Homo sapiens: one gene and its partner. The protein of the gene in region 1 interacts with the protein of each later gene in a biochemical or structural test. Each region holds a gene or a part of one and is shown in the gene's direction. Other genes may lie near its edges.

The links.
Region 2: of the proteins of HAT1 (region 1) and RSAD2, one has a biochemical effect on the other in vitro, tested with the Homo sapiens proteins (one study listed by BioGRID).

The regions. Positions count from the first base shown.
Region 1 is NC_000002.12:171,918,060-171,925,504, forward strand, and holds the start of HAT1 (histone acetyltransferase type B catalytic subunit), read left to right. Parts: upstream 1-4,401; 5' UTR 4,402-4,441; coding exon 4,442-4,448; intron 4,449-4,862; exon of another isoform or gene 4,863-5,058; intron 5,059-7,445. UniProt on the Homo sapiens protein: Histone acetyltransferase that plays a role in different biological processes including cell cycle progression, glucose metabolism, histone production or DNA damage repair. Coordinates histone production and acetylation via H4 promoter binding.
Region 2 is NC_000002.12:6,873,571-6,880,812, forward strand, and holds the start of RSAD2 (S-adenosylmethionine-dependent nucleotide dehydratase RSAD2), read left to right. Parts: upstream 1-4,206; 5' UTR 4,207-4,230; coding exon 4,231-4,576; intron 4,577-7,242.

The DNA.
Region 1 (7,445 bases):
GCTGGAATTACGGGTGTATGCCACCACACCCGGTTAATTTTTGTATTTTCAGTAGAGATGGAGTTTCACCATGTTGGCCAGGCTGGTCTCGAACTCCTGACTTCATGTGATTTGCCTGCCTCGGCCTCCCAAAGTGCTGGGATCACAGACGTGAGCCACCGCGCCCAGCCTATTTTCTTTCTTGTATCCCATTTGGAAGTCATCTAGCTGGATAATGGTTTCTGGATAATTGCTCTGGGAACTGAGACTCATAACTTTATGCTCATTAGCACTACGAGCTAAAAAAATGAGCTAACTAACTACTGTTATTTGTCTGTGTAAAGGTATGCATTTTGAAATGAAGACACATTACATACATGCATTTTTCTTAAAATTGATTTCCTGCATCAATTTTCTGATGACCATATATATATATATATATTTTGAGACGGAGTCTGTCTCCCAGGCTGGAGTACAGTGGCATGATCTCGGCTCACTGCAAGCTCCGCCTCCTGGGTGCATGCCATTCTCCTGCCTCAGCCTCCCAAGTAGCTGGGACTACAGGCGCCCGCCACCACGCCTGGCTAATTTTTTGTGTTTTTAGTAGAGACGGGGTTTCACCGTGTTAGCCAGGATGCTGTCGATCTCCTAACCTCGTGATCTGCCTGCCTCGGCCTCCCAAAGTGCTGGGATTACAGGCATGAGCCACTGCGCCCGGCCCGATGACCATATTTTTTTGTGCCAAATTTTAATCCATTCTGGAGGTTTCAAAGCAAGATAGTGAAGTTTATCAGTCCATATGAACTTGAGCCTGTACCAACACATGGTTGCCAGTTCATACCTAATAGTGTAATATGGCCCTTTTCTCTGAAGAAAATGCCTTTTCCAAATCTCCCTTACTAGAATAAATGTTATCATAGTAATACCACTTCATACCTGCATAGAGTTTTAGAGTTTACAAAGGTCGTTCACAAATATTATTCCGTTTAGTTTTTACAGCAACCCAGTGTGGTGACTGGGCAGTACTATTATCTCCACTTAATAGATGCAACAAGGTTGAACAAGCATGAAGTAGTAGAACTGGGACTAGTAGGGCAGTAAACTTCCCACAAGATATGTTGTCTCTTCCATATATATATGAGGATAGCATATTCCTTTCATAGAAATTTTATTCCATGATTGTAATAGTTGCTTTCTTAAATTCTCTTTAGAACAAAGTAAAATATAAGTTAAAAAAGGAAAGAAATCCCTACAAAAAAAAAGAGAATTTTTTTCCTTTTGGGTAATTTTCACATTACCTTTCCAAAATAAGTCATTCTTTTATCTTTTAGGTAAACTGTACCAAAACATCTATTCTGTAACATTAAAAAAAAAAAATGTGAGGATGGACATGGTGGCTCACACCTATTATCCTAGCATTCCGGGAGGCCAAGCTGAGAGGATTGCTTGAGGCCAGGAGTTTGGGACCAGCCTGGGCAACATACTGAGACTCCATTTCTACAAAAAACAAAAAAATTAGCTGTGCACAATGGCACACATTTGTAGTCCTGGCTATTTGGGAGGCTGAGAGGCAGGAGGATCTTTTGAGCCCAGCAGTTGGAGGCTGGAGGCTGTAGTGAGCTATGATTGCATCATTGCAATCCAGCCTGGGTGAGAGTGAGACCCTGTCTCAAAAAAAAAAAAAAAAAAAAAAGTGAACATCTAAGACGAGGACAATATAAAACCTCAATTCTGCAAGCAAATCACATTAAATGCTAGTCATACAATATATCAGTAAGTTTCATCATATTTTTTTCCTACAACTAACCATAATATCACAGGACTAATAATCTGTGATATACCACAGTTAAAACGTAATTCTTCTTGATTTCTTACTTATAAAGATCATAATTGCTGGTCAGCAATTGATCCATAGATAAGGTGATTTTGGAAAGAAATGATAAGTCTTGCCATTTTGAAAAGAAAAGTTTTTTTTTTTTTTTGAGATGGAGTCTCGCTCTCTTGAGCAGGCTGGAGTGCAGTGGCACTATCTCAGCTCACTGCAACCTCCGCCTCCTGGGTTCAAGCGATTCTACTGCCTCAGCCTCCCAAGTAGTTGAGATTACAGGCTCATGTCACCACGCCTGGTTAATTTATTGTACTTTTTAGTAGAGACAGGGTTTTACCATGTTGGCCAGGCTGGTCTCAAACTCCTGACCTCAGGTGATCTGCCTGCCTTGGCCTCCCAAGTGCTGGGATTACAGGTGTGAGCCACCGTGCCTAGCCAAAAATGATTATTAAAGAAAAAGATTGTTTTCCTTTTTTGATCCATAATGTCATTAGTCTCATTGATTTCAGTTTTCTGTCTTAACATTATGACTGTAATTTCTTTTTTTTTTTTTGAGACGGGGTCTCGCTCTTGCCCAGGCTGGAGTGCAGTGGCGGGATCTCGGCTCACTGCAAGCTCCGCCTTCCAGGTTCACGCCATTCTCCTGCCTCAGCCTCCTGAGTAGCTGGGACTGCAGGCACCCGCTACCACGCCCGGCTACTTTTTTTGTATTTTTAGTAGAGACAGGGTTTCACCATGTTAGTCAGGATGGTCTGGATCTCCTGATCTCGTGATCCGCCCGCCTCGGCATCACAAAGTGCTGGGATTACAGGCGTGAGCCACCACGCCCGGCCTATGACTGTAATTTCTTGTGTATCATTAGGTTTCAAGAAAAAGGATCTTGAAACCTTTTCTTGGGATCACGACTGTAATCCCAGCACTTTTGGAGGCCGAGATGGGCAGATCATCTGAGGTTGGGAGTTCGAGATCAGCCTAACCAACATGGAGAAACCCCGTCTCTACAAAAATACAAAATTGCTGGGTGTGGTGGCGCATGCCTGTAATCCCAGCGACTCAGGAGGCTGAGGCAGAAGAATCGCTTGAACCCGGGAGGCGGAGGCTGTGGTGAGCTGAGATTGTGCCATTGCACTCCAGCCTGGGCAACAAGAGTGAAACTCCGTCTAAAAAAAAAAAAAAAAAAAAGAAAGAAAAAGGATCTGGGCATTCTCAGTACCTTTTCTGATCTTTATCTTCAGGAAAGCCATCTCTATATAGTTGAGCAAATAAATACTGGGCTGAGTATCTGATGAACTGCACTCTGCATAGGTTGCATACTGAGAATGAACTTGGGCAGTTTATCTTTTCTGGGCTTTGGTTTCCTCATCTCTAAAATGAGAGGGCGTGTTAGTTCTAGACCATCATCCCAAGGGTCCATTTTAGCTTTAGCGTGCATCACTGTAAAACCTGTTAACAAATATTTGTTGAGATAAGGAATTCTGGTGTATAGCCAACATTGTGGGAATATTTGTGGATACCTAAATAGTGGTTTATCCTCTGGGGAAAGCAGTTCCTACAGCTACTAAATACTAACAAGGCCTATGGCTAAAATCAGGTAGCACCTTGTGATGTAATTCAAACCACTAGGACATGTGGCATGCAAGACTACATCAGGCTACTTGAGGTATTTATTAGGTAACAATTTTTTTTTTTTTTTGAGACGGAGTCTCACTCTGTTGCCCAGGCTGGAGTGTAGTGGCGCAATCTCGGCTCACTGCAACTTTCGCCTCCAGGGTTCAAGCGATTCTCCTGCCTCAGCCTCCCGAGTAGCTGGGATTACAGGCGCCTGCCACCATGCCTGGCTAATTTTTGTATTTTTAGTAGAGACGGGGTTTCACTATGTTGGCTACACTGGTCTCGAACTCCTGAGCTCAGGCAATCTACCCGCCTCGGCCTCCCAAAGTGCTGGGATTATAGGCGTGAGCCACCGCGCCCGGCCTAGGTAACGATTTTTGCGCGCTAAACGGTTCTTAGTAACCTGCAGAGTGAAAGCAGAGTACCTAAATATCATACTGTATACGTTAAAAACAGGGGAGAAAGGAAAAAAGGTGTTAAAGTTTACAGCAAAATGAGAAACAAATGAGGAAAACAAGTGAAAGCTTCTCCCGCAACTGAAACTCAACCTCTACATTTTACCTAGGTAAAATGGTAAAATTGCCCACAGGGCTCAGGTGTTTGGATGCACTGTCCAGGCCAAGAGGAAAGATTTTCAGCCAGTCTCCAAAACATCTCAGGGACGGGTATGGAAAACAGGCGTAAAGTGTCTGTATTGATCAAATCAACCCCAGAGAAACTTTCCTAGGGCCAGAGAGCATCTCAACCGCGAAAGTCCGTTTGCGGCCTCCTTCTCCACTTCAGGCCTGCAAAGCGGCTGACGGCATTCGCAGTGGCTAGGCAACGGCCCGCGCAGACTTCTCGGCGTTAGCCCCGCCTCTTGAGGCGCTTCCGCCGCCGGGCTCCTGGACACGCCTCCTTTAATTGGCTAACGTCACGCTGGGAGTGGGCGGGGAAAATATGTCAGACTGTGCGGTCACTTCCGGCCCGGGAGCGCGCGGGTTGATTCGTCCTTCCTCAGCCGCGGGTGATCGTAGCTCGGAAATGGCGGGTAAGTTACCGGGAAAAGTTTACCAAGGGGAGGAGGCGGCCAGATCGGGGATAGAACGCCGAGACGGTGGTGACAATGCCCGCCTAGAACTTTCGGGCTGTAGCCTGGGTTCCAGAAGGCCTGCTTGGGACCGGAAGCGCGGAACTCTCAGCCCAGCAGCTCCTTGTTGGCGGCGGTCCGCGCCCCCGCCCCCAACTGCTTGGGGTTCTGCGCCTTCTGCCAGCAATCCGGCCCCTACCGAGGGCCGAAGACGCCAGGGAAAAGCGTCATGATTTGGGCTCGTAAAATGCCACATGCCTTGGGGCCTGTTTCTCTTCCCATTCCTTTTGTCCACTGCTGCTTGCTTCAGCTCTTGTACATCTGGTCCTGTTCCCGCCAGCTGATTTTAATGCTCAGATCCTCCTCCTCTTCCAGGTCTCCGTCTACCTTCCACTACAGTCAACTTCTGAGCTAGCGCATTGCTGCCTTGCCCTGCTCTGGCGCTCCCACTTGGATCTCGACTGACTTCGTAGTCGTCTCGTTAATCTGTCACACTTTAGTATTCCGAGGATCGTATTTAGATGCCCTTTGAGAAAGACTTTGTTCCTGAACTGCTCCCTTCTCTTTTAGGGTTGGACTACTATAATACAATTCTCTTGTGTACATTCTAGAGACCCTTCAAGTTACAACATTTAATAATGTATAATTGCTATTACTTTGTACGTGTATTAAGGCTGTTTTGGTGTGATTATTTTTTTCGATTACTTATCTTTTGAAGTTATGGACAGTTTCTTTTTCCTGAGACAGGGTCTCTCTGTCGCCCAGGCTGGAGTGCAGCGATCATAGTTCCGGGCAGCTTCCAACTCCTCGTAGGCTCAAGCGATCCTCTTGCCTCAGCCTCCCGAGTAGCTAGGACTACAGGCATGCGCCACAACATTCGGCTAAAAAAAAACAATTTTTTTTAACCTTTTAGAGACAGAGTCTGGCTGTATTGCCTCAGGCCGGTCTGGAACTCTTGGCCTCAAGCCATCCTCTCGCCTCAGCTTCCCAAAGTGTTGGAATGACAGGATTGAGCCACTTCGCTGGCCTTTGTTGCTTTTATCATCTCTTTACAGGGCATTCCTCATAGTCTCTCTACATTAACCATTCCATTTTTATGAATATGTGGGATAGACAAGCTGTTGTGTGAGCTCTACAGATGTTTAAAGAAGGACTTTTCTACCAGATGGAGATTGTAGGATCTTGAAGTACCACAGAAGAGGGAGGACGTACTCTAAGAATTACATCTAAATTCGAATTTTGGGCCCATCATTTAGTAGTTGGATGCCCTTCAACTAAACCTCTTTCTAAGCCTGAACTTTTGAATGTAAAATGGGGTTGATGTAATACCTACTTATAGAATTGTGCAGATTGAGCTAATATATGATTTCACAGGTTAAATTTTGTTGCTTACATTCCTCGAAGTAAATTCTGTAATCTCGGTTCTGTAGATTAGGGTCAGAGGGGTTAAGTAATGTGCTCTAGTTCCCTGAGCTTACTAGCTCAGTAAGTGTGTGAAATAGTCAGAATCCAGGAATTCTCACTCCAGACTATTAATCTGTACTGCTTCAAGTCTTTCCCATTTTCTGTGTGTGTGTTTTAACCCCTTTTTGAAGTTTATAGCACATCATTGTACCCCTTTTTATTTTTTGCTTATGGCTTTTTTCTGTCTGAATTTTTACTGATTTTTTTTTTTTTTGGAGACTGAGTCTCGCTCTGTCACCAGGCTGGAGTGCAGTGGCGCGATCTCGGCAACCTTTGCCTTCTGGATTCAAGCAATTCTGCCTCAGCCTCCGGAGTAGCTAGGACTACAGTCACGCGCCACCACGTCCAGCTAATTTTTGTATTTTTAGTGGAGATGGGGTTTCACCATGTTGGCCAGGATGATATCCGTCTCGACCTCGCGATCCCCCTGCCTCGGCCTCCCAAAGTGCTGAAATTACAGGCGTGAGCCACCGCGCCCAGCCCATTTTTACTAATCATATGCCCATTTTGTCAGGAGATTTGTTATCTTGAAAGTTTCTCTTGATAGTGATATCTTCCAATGTTATTTATTATGTATATTATTGAGTAGCCACTATGTAGTAAAACTATTGTGCCAGTAGCTCACAGTTTATGACTTTAGGCATACATGATTTTTAAATATTTAATACAGTGGAAAGATGTTTTCTTTGTGCCCCTGTTCCTCTTCCTTCTTTCTTTACCCATGGTAACTATGGTTACCAGATATTTGTGTATTCTTCTTGAGACATTCCATGCATTATCATTTCCTTATCTGAAGCACTCTGGTAGACTTTTTCCAATACTTAAAATGAAATTCTGTCATAATTATCAGAGGACATTCTCATTTTGCTTTTTACATCTTATAATGAAAAAGACGACTTAGGTATAAATCCTAGCAGGTAATTTGTATTAGTACATGTTCAGAAATGTTAGTAATCTATCATGTTAATTTTCAGGTTTATTCATTTATATTAAGTATTCCTAGTTTATAAGCCTGTATCTCAAAAGTGATTTCTTTTTCTGTTTTGTAATGAGGCATTCTTTTTTTTTTTTTTTTTTTTTGAGATGGAGTCTTGCTCTGTCGCCCAGGCTAGAGGGCAGTGGCATGATCTCGGCTCACTGCACCCTCTGCCTCCTGGGTTCAAGAGATTCTCCTGCCTCAGCCTCCCAAGTAGCTGGGATTACAGGCGCCCGTCACCGTGCCCGGCTAATTTTTGTATTTTTAGTAGAGACGGGTTTCACCATCTTGGCGAGGCTGACCTCGAACTCCTGACCTTGTGATCCACCCACCTCAGCCTCCCAGAGTGCTGGGATTACAGGCGTGAGCCACCGTGCCCAGCTGGCATTCTTAATACATTTATTTAAGAGTATGTGGAGAATGACTTGTGCTTTTATGATCTATCAGCATGTTTTAAATCATACCCCTATTCCACTTATAATAACCCTATTGCAGGTTTGACAATTTAAGTCACTTCC
Region 2 (7,242 bases), about 170 Mb from region 1:
GATTACTTGGGGAAACTGAACTTTAAAAAGTTCAGGGTTTTCACATCCATGTAAATCTGTATTCTTTTCGAAGTCTTCTGATTATCACTTTGCTTATTTAGGAGTGACATATGATTCTGCTTAATCAAGTATTTTGAACCTTTTGACATCTTTGGCAGGTTTCCTCAATATCAAAACCCTAAATTAAGCCTTTTTGATCTTGAAGAGATACTAAATGATTAGGCTTATTTGGCAAATCATATGGGAAGCATATCAAATAAGAAATGATGCTTAACTCCCTTTAAGTTATATTTATATAAATATGTTACTAATATGTGTTCCAAATTGCATGAGATCTTAAAATTCCAAGATGTTATATGATATGGTTTAGATTTGTGTCCCCAACCAAATCTCATGTTGAAATTGTAAACCTCAATGTTGGAGGTGCAACCTGGTGGGAAGTGATTGGATCACGGGAGCAGGTCCTCATGAATGGCTTAGTACTGTCAACTTGGTACTGTCCCCAGGATAGTGAGTTCTTGTGAGATCTGATCGTTTAAAAGTGTGTAGCGCCTCCTCCTGCCCCAGCATCTTTCTCTCTTGCTCCTGCTCTGGACATGCGAGACATCTTCTCCCCCTTTTCCTTCTGTCATGATTTTAAGTTTCCTGAGGCCTCCCCAGAAGCCAAGCAGATGCCAGCATGATGCTTCCTGTACAGCCTGCATAAGAATGAGCCAATTCAACCTATTTTCCTTATAAATGACCCAATCTTGGGTATTTCTTTACAGCAATGCAAGAATTGACTAATATATCATAATATGTGTTATCAGTCTTGAGTATGATTATTTAGTTTAATGATTGTATGCCACAAAAATACCTAAATTTTCTTTTAAATTTTCTTGCAATTATTTCTACATTATTTCTTACAATTTCCTTGTAAACTCTCATCAGAGTTTTGATCATAGCTGTTCTGGATTTTTCTCATCCACGATTATTGTTTTAAATTCTTCTCTAGAAGCATTTGCAATCAGCTATAGCCCAAAATTACTAATTAAGGAAAGCAAAATTAATTAACCGAAAGTAAGTAGTTGATAAGGATAACTTTATGACTTTTATTTAAAATGTTGGTTCTACACTTAAATTTTTTTTCAGATTCAAGGAATTTTTCTTTCATTAGTTATAGTTTGCAATAATTTGGGGAAGTATACTTTTATGAACAAAAGTGGAAGCATTTGCCTTTCTCCCTACTTGAGTCCTCCAAAATTCAGACACTATTTGTGAGCATTCTTATTTTATTTCTGTAAGTTCAGTAAAAATCTGCTCTCCCTTTGTAAGCAGGATACTATTGGAAATACTGATTATATTACTAGGCTTTGATTGAAAAGTCATATTTAAGAAGGGTCATCACATGCCTGGCTTCAAGAGTTCCCAGCCTTACAGTGAATACATAAAACTTGTCACTTCCTGGTAGGCCCAAGAACCTTAAGACCCTAAGTAAAATCTAAAGCCTGCCTTGATTTGGCTTCCTAGCCTCTAGAGGTTCTAAAACCTGAAAGTTCCTGTATGATTAATGTGGAGAGAAAAAGTCATGTTCTTAAGAAAAACTAACGTGCACCTACTTTAGGTTAAAGCCCTATGCACTGTTTTCAAGTTCTGGTTTTCTACCTGTAGACTGGACTGGATCCTGAGTTCTCCTAATTTCCTACAATATCTGGATACAGTTAAATCCTGATAAAGTTTACCAGCCCTCTTCCCTCAAGCAAAACTATAGAGCCTCTTGGGACATTTCCCCTACTCGAATTATTCAACTAGGGGAATTAGGTATTAAGATTGGAGAAAACTCATCAGAGCTCTGGTCAACACTGGGGCTACTCTGTCCATCCTTAACCCCAGCATGCTTTCCATGGACCCTCCCTGGAGTTCTGAATTCATCCAGATGGTTGGGGTAGCCAACCAACCTATGATGGTTCCTAATCTTCACCTATTCTTTTCCAACTAGTACCCCTCACGGGCAGTTGTTTTTCCTTTGGGCTTCCATACACTTCCTAGGCAGGGACTTCTTAGAAACATTCCAGGCCCATATTTTATTCTCCCAGAAAGGAGAAATAATGCTTGAGTTATCCTCACCAGGAGATTTGGCCATGGAAATACCTTTTACCCAAATTCCCATCTATTCAGTTATCCCCAACACTACCTGCCCTGTTCTCTAACAGCTATAATCCAACACTCATGATAATCCCTCAGATTATGAAGATAATAGTTGTGGATACTCTCAAGGATATAATTCATCTAGAAGGGTTAACCCTAGAAGGAGCTAGATTAGGAAGGTTTTTCCGGTCCCAATTTAAACTAGATTCTGCTTGGAATTCATAAATGATCAGAAACCCTTCCTGAACTGTTCGCAGGATTGCCTGCTCTACCACCCAGGCCATCAGGGTGCAACAGAGGTCCATAGACTCCCTTGCTCGTGTGGTCCTAGACAAACACATTGCTTTAGACTATCTCCTCCCTGCACAGAGTGATGTTTGTGCTGTTGCTGCCACTTTCCACAGGGTAAATACTTCCAGGCAGGTTGAATTTGAAACATCTAAGATCTTAAGGCTAGCCAAATCTCTGAAAAACAGCTTCAAAAAGCCTCCTGGCTGGACCTTCTAGGTTAAGTTTCTGATCTCCAGATATTTCCAGCCGGCTTCCCCTGCAGTAGGGTTCCTTCTGCATGCCACCCTACAAGTCTTGATCCTCCTTATGTTTGGGCTAAGCATTTGGAGCCTCTTTAAGATTTTCCTAGCCTATTTTAACAGATGCCTGCAAGAGACCCCCACTAGGATCGTGCTGACCTAACCTTTGAGACTTCAAAGGTTGCTCCAGCCAGAAAGGGGAACCAAGTTAACCCAAAAGAATTTGATTCAAATTTAACAGGTGCCTGTATGCCTCTCATGATCACATGTTTATGAAGAAGTGAGATCTATCCAAAAGTGGTTTTCAATTGTGCAAGACCATGGCATGAGAGTTTAAGAAACTTTGGGCTGAGATTTCAAGGACCTGAGACATATCTACTGTTGAATATTTGGTAATCATTAAGCATACAATTTTGCAGATGTTAAATGTTAAGTTAAACATGTTTAATTTTTTTTAAGTAAAATAAATCATTTCTGTTTCTATTCAGAATATGACAGTATCAGAATAACAGGAGCTAACCCTAACTGAACACTTAAAGTTTGCCAGGCACTATTCTGAATTCTTCACAAAAATTAGCAGTTTTACTCTGCACAAAAATCGCCTGAGATACGTTGCTTTGCTGATGAAGAAATGGAAATCCAGAGAAATAAAGTCGCTTACTCAGTCACCCAGCTACATGATTTGTGGCTCTGGAAGTTCAGCTACTAGGACTCTTCCAACTTCCTACAGGTGTCACGAAAGCACAAGACCACACACTTACACACAGTTCTGATGAAAGAGGGCTAAAAGGAAGATTTCAGTAAAAAGGTCAACAAGGCTTTCTAAAAAAACTGTAAAGGTAAATAAATGATGTGTCGCAGTAATTCTCACCAATTAGGAAGCATCTTAGAAAAGCATTGGATTTCCTCTAGTTAAAAACATCTATAAAAAGTGATATCAAAATATAGGAAGATGTAAATATCTAAATTTTAACACTGTCACCTTGCATAAATTAGGCTGAATAGCTGATGGAATAAGACCTAAATTCAATTTTGTTCCATGCCTTTTTACTGTGATCTGAAAGGGGTCTTGAGGTGAATGATCCTGTACTCATCCTCCACCAGCCAATCAGTCTGTTTATTATTTGGCTTTAAAAAGAAACCCCTTCACCATGATGGAGCAAAAACTGTTACTTGGCTATGTCAAGAGAAAGCAATGCAACAAGTACAAAGCGTGCTGATTAATGCACCTTGTCTATCTCTATCAGACAGAGAGCTAGATATTGATAGAGACTGCTATCCTCATGTGTAACTACATCAAGCTAGAGAGACTGTTATAATACAAGTGGACTGAGGCAGCCGTGAGCAGAGAAACCAGGAATGCTCGCCCCGATCTCTAGTCTTCAGTCTTGGCCCTGTTTCAACTTTCAGTTTCACATGTGGAAAAATCGAAACTCTAACTCAGCTGAGTGTTAGTCAAAGAAGGTGTGTCCTGCTCCCCAATGACAGGTTGCTCAGAGACTGCTGATTTCCATCCCTATATAAAGAGAGTCCCTGGCATACAGAGACTGCTCTGCTCCAGGCATCTGCCACAATGTGGGTGCTTACACCTGCTGCTTTTGCTGGGAAGCTCTTGAGTGTGTTCAGGCAACCTCTGAGCTCTCTGTGGAGGAGCCTGGTCCCGCTGTTCTGCTGGCTGAGGGCAACCTTCTGGCTGCTAGCTACCAAGAGGAGAAAGCAGCAGCTGGTCCTGAGAGGGCCAGATGAGACCAAAGAGGAGGAAGAGGACCCTCCTCTGCCCACCACCCCAACCAGCGTCAACTATCACTTCACTCGCCAGTGCAACTACAAATGCGGCTTCTGTTTCCACACAGCCAAAACATCCTTTGTGCTGCCCCTTGAGGAAGCAAAGAGAGGATTGCTTTTGCTTAAGGAAGCTGGTGAGTACATGGTCCTAGACAGAAATCAGGATTCTCAACCACTGGGCAGTGGGGTAAGGCGAGAAGGGGCTGGGGGTATGCACAAGCTGGAGAGCTTCTCCAAAGCTTGAGGTCACCATTTACCCTTGCATGGTGAGCATGTTGTCCTATGAGAAAATAATTCAGTGAATTTTGGAGTGGGCACCTAGTCCTTCCTAAATCACAGAATTGGGCTGGAACAGGGGATTTGTGGAGCAAACCTGTCCCTCCTGCCATTTGGAAGCAAGAAGGGGTCTATGCAAAGGGCAGGTCCCTATTACACTTGGTGTTTGGAAAGAGGCGGTTTGGGAAGTTTGTACTACTTTCTGAGTTTGCCCACAACACTAACGAATTTGGGTTTTCCAGAAACAGTTATTAATAATTAGAAAAGTTGGAAACAAAAACAAAAACTTTGACATAAAAATAGCAGTAGTTGAATCTTATATTTGAGTTTGTGTATATTCTTTTAATAGGAAACCTTAAAATTTTTTTAACAAATATGTCAAGGACTTAGCCTTCAAGAATGCTTACTGAGCATCACCACATTAGTAACTGGCAGCGTCTTGGAGAGAACTCAGCACGTGACCTTCGAATGCAATATCTTCCACTCCAGATCTGTTCTGCCTTCCGTCCTTGTCTTCCTGTCTTTCCTAGAGTACCTTCTCAACTAGTAACTTCAGCAACATCTCTAGCTTCTTTCCCTCCTTGTTTAACTTTTTAACAAAAGCATAGCATACATGCACCAGATTACACATATTCTGGATGTGCACCCTGATGAATTTCACAAAGCAATCACAGCCAGGTAAATAGCCTGCAGATTCAGAGAGAAAGCATCACCAGCGCCAGAAGTGCATGCTGCACTCCAGCCACTACCCTGGTAAGCACTTGCTGGACTTCTAACACACAGATTCATTTTGCCTGATCCTGTACTTTATATAAATGAAATCATACAGTGGGTCCTATATTGGATCTGACTTCTTTGCTCCACGTTACATTGGCTTAGTTACCCAAAGCTGATTGCTCAAATGAGAACCTGACTTCCCATTCCCAGTGTGGCTTAACTCAAATTCCTATCATTTCTCACCAGGATTACTGTAATTCAACTCACTGTCTCTGCTTGCCCCATTGAAAACTCCTGATCTTTTTTTAAAATGTACTTTTGGTGATTTAACTCCTAACTCTCCTTCTTATGAGCATCGTTGTCAAGGCCCCTGGCAAGCTCAATGTTGCTCTCAGCCTCTGCTACCCTGATGGCTTGGGTCCCCTCTGCTGTAGACACAGCCTGTCACACTCATTTTCTCCAAACATCAAAATTGTTAAAATGATGGTCATATTGTTGTCTCTTCCTAGAATGTCTGTCCTCAAATCTTGTTGGTGAACTTTCAAAGTTCCTTTGAATTCTCCTTGATCCTCTGCAGCCATAATTATGCCCTTTACTTTTCACTTATGAGCTTATAGCAGTTGGTACAAATATGTCTTGCAGCTTTTTAAAATGTACTATTTTGTTCAGTTTTTTTTTTTAATGTCTGGTTCCTCAAAGAAATTGCATTCCAAGGTTGAATTTTACCCTCCTGTGTGTCTTCATGCCTGACAGGATGTCTAGAAAGTAATAGAGGCTTAAGAAATGTTTTAGATAAATGAATGAATGCATGAGTGAGTGAATAAGGAGATATGTCGAGGGAAATTACGACTTTCATTCAGAAAGCCAGGGTTTGAGTTTCTGCTCTAACATTTACTAGATTTGTCAAGACATTTAGCTTTTCTGAGTATCAGTTCCATGATCTTTAAAATTATCTTTAGATAATAATGATAACTGATAAACCAATCTCAAAAGTTGGTACAAGGCACAAACAAGTGAATGTTCATGTATTTTTGTCATAAAAGATAAATTATTATTAATAGTTATAATTAATACTTTTATATAATAACCTCTCAGTTTAAGTAAGTAAAACAAAAGTTAATTGAAATGCTTACATGATAGTGTAGGTTGTATTTTCCTGTAAGAGAGATTTCTAGATAATGGAGGAAAACTATTTTTTTGGTTGTAAGAATTAAAGAAAGAGGAAAGAAACACAAAAGGTGGCTCCACAGTCAAGGACAGGTTTATTTTAGAGAAAAAAAACCTGAGAGGGGCTTCTGGCTGAGTTAAGTCAGAGCCCACTCTCTTACAGACTAAGAGTTTTAAGGATTTGGCGTGGGAGGGTTTATTAGAGACTTGGACTGCTTCTGTTTCTCTTTGTTGTGCTTATCTGGGAGGGAGAGTTGTGTGTCTGTTCCCGTACATCTTCCTGCAGCTGCAGGCATACCCACCCTGAATCTGCTTTTAGCTTCCCTATCTTAGAACACTAAAGAGAAACTAATGTGCTTATTTAGGCCCACTGTTTTACTGGGACCCATTGTATGACAGTGAAGTTTGGCAGTTACCTAAAAGACTTCCCCTCAACCTCCCTCTGTGCTCAAGCTGTCTTGTCTGTGTTTTACTGTCTGCTCTTTCTGGCTGCTTGTGGTTAGAAGATAAGTGATTTCCTTGAAATGCATGAGGCTAGAAAGGGAGCTGGAACTTAAAGTGGTGGTGTTTGTCTGAGATGATGGTGTTCTTGATCTGTCAGTGGTAATTAAAGGTTTAAATTCACATTGAAATTTAAATT